Linked DNA regions of Homo sapiens. The protein of the gene in region 2 purifies or fractionates together with the protein of the main gene of each other region. This does not show direct contact. Each region holds a gene or a part of one and is shown on either strand. Other genes may lie near its edges.

The links.
Region 1: the proteins of E2F5 (region 2) and LIN54 purify together in Homo sapiens (co-immunoprecipitation; one large-scale study listed by IntAct). This does not show direct contact.

What each region holds. Positions count from the first base shown.
Region 1 is NC_000004.12:82,979,695-82,983,521, forward strand, and holds part of LIN54 (protein lin-54 homolog), read right to left. Parts: intron 1-3,827. UniProt on the Homo sapiens protein: Component of the DREAM complex, a multiprotein complex that can both act as a transcription activator or repressor depending on the context. In G0 phase, the complex binds to more than 800 promoters and is required for repression of E2F target genes.
Region 2 is NC_000008.11:85,204,617-85,208,443, reverse strand, and holds part of E2F5 (transcription factor E2F5), read right to left. Parts: intron 2,268-3,827; coding exon 2,224-2,267; intron 1,020-2,223; coding exon 955-1,019; intron 1-954.

The DNA.
Region 1 (3,827 bases), on a different chromosome or scaffold from region 2:
CTGGGAGGCTGAAGCAGGCAGACACTTGAGGTCAGGAGTTCAAGACCAGCCTGGCCAACATGGTGAAACCCTGTCTCTACAAAAATACAAAAATAAGCAGGGTGTGGTGGCGCACACCTATAATCTTAGCTACTCGGGAGGCTGAGGCAGGAGAATTGCTTGAACCCGGGAGCAGAGGTTGCAGGGAGTCGAGATTGCACCACTGCACTCCAGCCTGGGTGACAGAGTGAGTGAGACTCTGTCTCAAAAAAAAAAAAAAAAAAAAAAAAAAATACTGGGTCTCATCTCGTCACCCAGACTGGAGTGCAGTGGTGCACTCATAGTTCACTGCAGCCTCAAACTCCTGGGCTACAGCAACTGTTTATTATATTTTAAATTCCTTGAAGAGAGAAACTATATTTAATTCATCTCCAATTTGAAGTTACATATTGGCACACTGTTGACCTGAATTATAATTCTCCACAAGTCAAGGAGTGTAGAGTTACCAATTTTTTATATTGCGATTATCACCATATACAAAGACACAGCTTCTTCTAAAAGTTAAAAGAAGAAATTTACCTGGGATAAAAATCAAAGAATTTTAGAGTGTGAAGAACATTAAATATTAATTATATCTTTTGGCAATGAAAATTGAGACTGTAAAAGAACTATTTATTATAGGAAATAGTGACTCAAATGAAAAAATATGACCAACATGAATAACAGAAATACACCGGAAGTTATGATAGATCACAGAACTAGACAAATATTAGCTCTTTGTGCTCAAATTATAAATTAAACTAAATAACACATCTTACACCTACAATATATTACTTTTTTATACTCAGAGCACATTACTGACAAAAACCAACTGTATATAAAATACAAATCACTTAAAAAAAAACATACCCATTATTGTATTTAAAAACGGCCGACTTGCAAAACTATAACATACTCAAATAAATCTATAATTATACTCTAGAAAGCTAATGAAATTTAGAGAAATACAAATTTCTCAAGTATGTTTACAGACTTAAAACCCTAAAGTCAGTCAAAATTGTATCTATTGTATCTATAATATTAACAATCTCTAGAGGTAGAAGTATTAATATTCTTAGAAAGCCATATTAGCAATAAATAACCTTAGCTATAACAATTATGGGCTTAAAGTATTTCCCCATTTTAAACTGATTTTTCACAATCATGAGTATATGAATACTTATCAGTAAGAAAAAAATATAAACAGTACAACCAGAAGCACATTAATTATTCAAATAAACAATCTCATCTTGCCCTTGTGGTTATGTTTCTTTAGTGGTGCTGAAAATAATAACTTTTGGTTCCATTAAGGAACTATGATTTTTTTGCACTATGAATTCTAAAGTATCCTGGAACAAAATTATTAAGTAAAACAAAGCATCAAAGATTACTTTAACAAGTTTATAGAATCAGCAGCTTAAGATAAACATGAAAAAAAACTTACAAATAAGGTAGTAAAATATGTCATCAAATAATATATACAAGTAATTTTTGGCACTGTGTTGGATAGATTCAGGAGCTAGTAAGGAGTTATATTGTTCCAGACTGCTAGTTATGTACTACTCTTATATACTATGCACAGGAAACATGGGAAAGTGTTTATATATCTGTTATTACATATAATTATACCTCTGTTACTGCCTCTGGCTTCAAAGGTCACCTCTTTTCTTCATTTTTCAAGATGGCCTCCATCTTCCACCGTTGCCTGCTATCTATACCCTAACAGTCTCAATACTCTGACTAAACTTAACACTGACAACTACCTAGGGGGAAAAAAACCAGAAAATCATATACTCTTTGTAATACTAAACCAAATATTCTGGTGTCAAAAAAGGAAAAAATATAGATGCATAGTTTTTAATTTGTCTTTTGTGCTTCAGAGCTTTGAGGTTACTTCTGAGATGGAAAGACTTAAGTCGCCTAAAAATAATGGATTGTACAAGTAAAAAAAATTCTAAATCTAATTCCTTTTTATTGTTTTTTTTAATAGAATTCTTTTTTATTAGATAGAAACAGGCTTTAGAAAACTAACAATAGCCCAGGTGCAGTGGCTTATGCTTGTAATCCCAGCACTTTTGAGAGGCCAAGGCAGGTGGATTGCTTGTGTCCAGGAGTTTGAGACCAGCCTGGGCTACATGGCAAAGCCCCATCTCTACAAAAAAAATACAAAAATTGGCCAGGTGTGGTGGTTTGCATCTGTAGTCCCAGCTACTTGGGAGGCTGACGTGGGAGGAGCATTTGAGCTTGGGGGGTCAAGGCTGCAGTGGAGCACCCACTGCACTCCAGACTGGGTGACAGAGAGACCTGTCTCAAAAACAAAACAAAACAAAACAGAAAAGTAACAATAAAACAAGTTATAAGAATTAGACCCCAGTCTTTTTTTTATTGTCATTACTTAGGGAGTTAAAGTAGAGAAATAATAGATACAAGCAACACTGGTCATTGAAATGTCACATATACCTTGCTCTCATAAATGAAAAAAATGACATTCTAATTTATGATATCTTTTCCTTTTTTAGTTTATTTTTATTTTTTTGAGACAGGGTTTTCCTGTAGCCCAGGCTGAGGTGCAGTGATGCGACCACAGCTCACAGCAGCCTAGACCTCCCCGGCTCAAGCGACCCTCTCACCTCAGCCTCCTGAGTACCTGGGACCGCAAGTGTGCGCCACCATGCTGGGCTAATTTTTTGTATTTTTGGTAGAAACAGGGTTTCACTATGTTGCCCAGGCTGGTCTCGAACTCCTGGCCTCACAGAATCTGCCCACCTTGGCCTCCCAAAGTGTTGGGCTTACAGGTTCGTGAGCCACCACACCTGGCATCAGTTTCTTTTGAACATAATTATGATCCATATTGCCAAAGCCAAATAAACTTTGGTAAACCAATAAAAACAAGCTTCAAAACTGAGGACAAGATGCTTGATGGTGATAAGATATCTCATCCAAGAGATTCTTGGCAAAAATAAGAAGTAAAAGGAAGTCATAGATAAGTGAGAAGTAATAATGAACAAGAAAGAGCACTAAATGTTTAATAATGGCAAAGGGGACAGAGGCAAATTATAAGATTTAAGAAATTCTACAAAGTTCTTAAATGCAAAGCCCATGAAAAGTGGTTTCTAATTCTACTGTCAAAACAGTAACCAAAACATTACTCTAATATCAGCTGAGTGTAGTCTCCCAAAACCTTCCTACTTCCTTCTTATGCATTTCCTATTATTTCTATGCATTCAAAGACAACTCTTTCAAACAGAGGATACATTTTTGTTTCCTGGTCATAAGTATATCACTGCATTTCTTGTTTTTTTTTTTTTTTTTGAGATGGAGTTTCGCTCTTGTCACCCAGGCTGGAGTGCAATGGCGCGATCTCGGCTCACTGCAACCTCTGCCTCCCGGGTTCAACCGATTCTCCTGTCTCAGCCTCCTGAGTAGCTGGGATTATAGGCACTCGCCACCATGCCTGGCTAATTTTTTGTATTTTTAGTAGAGATGAGGTTTCACCATGTTGGGCAGGCTAGTCTCAAACTCCTGACCTCAGGTGATCCGCCCACCTCAGCCTGCCAAAGTGCTGGGTGGGATTACAGGCTTAAGCCACCACGCCCCGCCGATCACTGCATTTCCAAGAGTAGTGGTGGCCTAAGAAAGCCTATTTGGGCATGATAAACTGGAAATCACTTAATATATATTCCAGTAACCTTCTTTCTTAGGGTCCTATTCATACTAATAATAGGTACCATTATGAAACATCCTCAATATTTTGAGAATTATACTACACATTTCATCTTGATCAAAAAGTATTCTTAAGATAAAGTCAA
Region 2 (3,827 bases):
AATGTTTTATAAAAGACCTAATTTAAAGGAATTGATTGTTGATATGTACATTGAACTTTTTCCTCAGTGGCAATTTTTATATCAATTGTAGATGTGTTGTTGTTGTTGTTGTTTTGATACAGAGTTTCACTCTTGTTGCCCAGGCTGGAGTGCAATGGCGCGATTTCGGCTCACTGCAACCACTGCCTCCTAGGTTGAAGCAATTCTGCTGCCTCAGCCTCCCAAGTAGCTGGGATTACAGGCATGCACCACCATGCCCGGCTAATTTTGTATTTTTAGTAGAGATGGGGTTTCACCATGTTGGTCAGGCTGGTCTTAAACTCCTGACCTCAAGTGATCCACCTGCCTTGGCCTCCCAAAGTGCTGAGATTACAGGCATGAGCCACTGCACCCAGCCCAATGTGGTCATTTTAACTTATTTTTATAGATTATTGGCCATATGATTAGTCATTTCTTGACATCCTCTAACTTAAAAAATTCAAATTTAAAATAATTTAATCAAAATGTTAAATCATTTTAAATCATTTGGTTACTTGGGGATAGATATCTTAGGGATAGGACCCAAGTCTAAACACAATATTCATTTGTTTCATACACACCTTATTCACATAGCCTGAAGATAATTTTATACAATAGTTTTAATTTTTGTATGAAACAAAAATCACTTGATAAAGCATTCTGATTACTTTTTAAAAATTGACTTTGAGCTAAATGATATCAATAAATGACTAAGGATATAGCCAATAATCTTTAAAATCATTTATGATTCATTTAGTTCTATAATTTTACCAAGGAATTAAAGACATACAAATTCAGCTATCAATACTTTTAGATAAAAACTTGACTAACTCACAGTGTTTACACAATTAGCTCACATTCAGCTAAAGAAAATATCCTTCTTGAGACAGTAGATTCATTTTTCCCACTTATATAAACATAAGTTATCCTACATACCATTTCTGGAATGGGTACCTCCAGTTGTGTACCAGAAGGTGCCTGAATGGCCAAAAGTGTATCACCTGGTCAAAAATAAATATAAAAAGTTACATAAAATACTGTTGATCATGGAATACAGTGGCAAGAATGTGGGCTCTGGAATCAGAGTGTTTGGTTCAATCCCAAACTAGGTGACCTTGAGCTTTGATTTTCAATTCTATAAAATGGGGGATACACAACCTACTGCATAGATTTATTTTGAGGATTAAATAAGATAATACATGTATTAGTATTATACATGGGTTAGCTGTATGATTCTCATTAACAAATTCAGCTCAAGTTGATTTTGCTTTGACTAAGACTCCTGTAAAGTCTGAGATTCTTAAGACCATTTAGCCTCAAATAACACTGTTCATTGGACTGAGGATAGTGGAGATTAGGTATGAGACACTGAAATGTTGAGCTTAAATGATTTTATTATTTTTGAAGCCAAATTCTACAACAAATCTCTGTTGAGTTGCAGATTAACAGAAGTCTCAGCAAACTTCCTTAAAAAACTCAGGAAATACAGTGGTAAAATAGAACAATAGTCCTATACTTATTTCCAACATAGTCTTACATAGAAAGTCAGATTCCACTTGATGAGGTACTTGGCAGAATCTTTTTAAATAGGTGGATAATACACATAAATTTAAATATGCACAATTTCATTTTACTTGTGCTATAATTTTGGGAACACACGTCCCCCCATTTTAGTTATATTAATAATTATAATTATTAACATGATATTGTTATTTTAAGGAGAAAACACAGGGGCAGCAAATTGCATAGGAATAGGTTTCCTGGTTATAAGATGGATTCACCTAATTCTTTCCTTATGGTTTCTTTGAGTTTCATTTGAGACCAGCATACTTGCATATAGTTTGATAAACAATGCTGATGAGAACCATGTTCTAGTTCAAGTTTGGTCACTAACTCTGTGACTGTGTGACAATGAAAGTTGCTTAATCCCGCTCTGATTTAGCTTGCCCTCTGTCCCTGTCCCCTTCCCCTTCCACACACAGTTGATCCCTACCAGTGGAGCTAATGAACTGAATGCTGTGAAAAGCAGCTATTCTCATGAAAACAGAAACAAAAGCAGTCTATCAATACACGGCATGGTGGAGTGAGACACAATGCCCACAACTTCTGAAAATAATGACAGGATGAGGACACAGGGAATTCTGAATCACCCTCCACTAAATAGGTTGAGAGGAAGAATGCAAGGAAAAGTCTAATGGTACTTACCATTAAAGCAATTACAGATGTCTTCATGAGTTACATAGGAAAATGTACTGTCATAGGAGTTAAGGAACGACATTTATATCAAGCCGTAGGCATTTAAATTAAGGTAATACATCTGAAGGTCAAAATAACTAAATGACCATATGCACAGAGGGACTGCCACACATGGACAGACAAAAAAAGAAGTCTAGTCTAGAAAGGTAAAGACAAAGGAGTTCCCATCCTTTGCTCTTAGAAGAAGCCATTCTGATTTTTGTGACATTTGAGGACCCTTAGGAGAGAGATGGAAAGCAGTGCACATTCTTCATGGAGGCAAAGGTTTCTGGGGGAAGGGAATGGATGGGGAAAAGGAGGCCATCAGCAACCATATCAGCTTCCACATCAGGAATTTTCTGTGATCGTTGTTTTTTGTTCTTGTATTAAATGGTCAGGTATGGCCACAAGAGGACACAGAGGATTAAAGAAAGGCTCAGAAAAACAAAGTATTATACTCATAGGTCCTAGTGACGGGAGGCAAGGCAGGCTACTCAGGGCCACATGGTTAAGACAACAAGGTGGTCAGGAGGCAGAAGACAGGAGCAAGGGGAAAGCATTAGCCCAGAGCTTTTATTGGGGTTTCCTTGGGAAAAGAAATGCAGGGTGGCTGGGCATGGTGGCTCACGCCACCCAGCACTTTGGGAGGCCGAGGCAGGTGGATCACTTGAGGTCAGGAGTTCAAGACCAGCCTGACCATATGCACAGAGGGGCTGCCACACATGGACAGATAAAAAAAGAAGTCTAGTCTAGAGATGGTGAAACCCATCTCTACTAAAATACAAAACTTAGCAGGGCATGGTGGTGAGCACCTGTAATCACAGCTACTCTGGAGGCTGAGGCAGAAGAATTGCTTAAACCCGGGGGGTGGAGGTTGCAGTGAGCCAAGATCGCATCACTGCACTCCAGCCTGGGCAACAGAGCGACTCCATCTCAGGAAAAAAAAAAAAGCAGGGTGGGGAGAACACTACGATTAGCTAGTCTGGATAATTTTGTTTTGTTTTATTTTGAGACGGAGTTTGCTCTATCGCCCAAGCTGAAGTGCAGTAGTGTGATCTTGGCTCACTGCAGCTTCTGCCTCCTGGGTTCAAGCAATTCTCCTATGGCCTCCCTGGTAGCTGGGATTACAGATGCACATTGCCATGCCCAGCTAGTTTTTGTACTTTTAGTACGGACAGGGTTTCACCCTGTTGGCCAGGCTGGTCTCAAACTCCTGACCTCAGGTGATCCGCCAACCTTGGCTTCCCAAAGTGCTGGGATTACAGGCGTGAGCCACTGCATTTGGCCTAGTTTGGATAATTTTGGTGGGCTCTAAGCTATGCAGGTAGTCCCCCAGTTGTCTGGTACCTGACCCTGGGATGATTAAGGCAGAGGAATATTGCCACCTGGGGTGTATGGACTGGAGAGAGGAGGTCTGGACCTTGACTGGTTAGTTTATATATCAAAGGGATGCTCCTGGCTGAGCCCATGCTGTTTCTTTTTTTTTAATTTTATTATTATTATACTTTAAGTTTTAGGGTACATGTGCACAACGTGCAGGTTTGTTACATATGTATACATGTGCCATGTTGGCG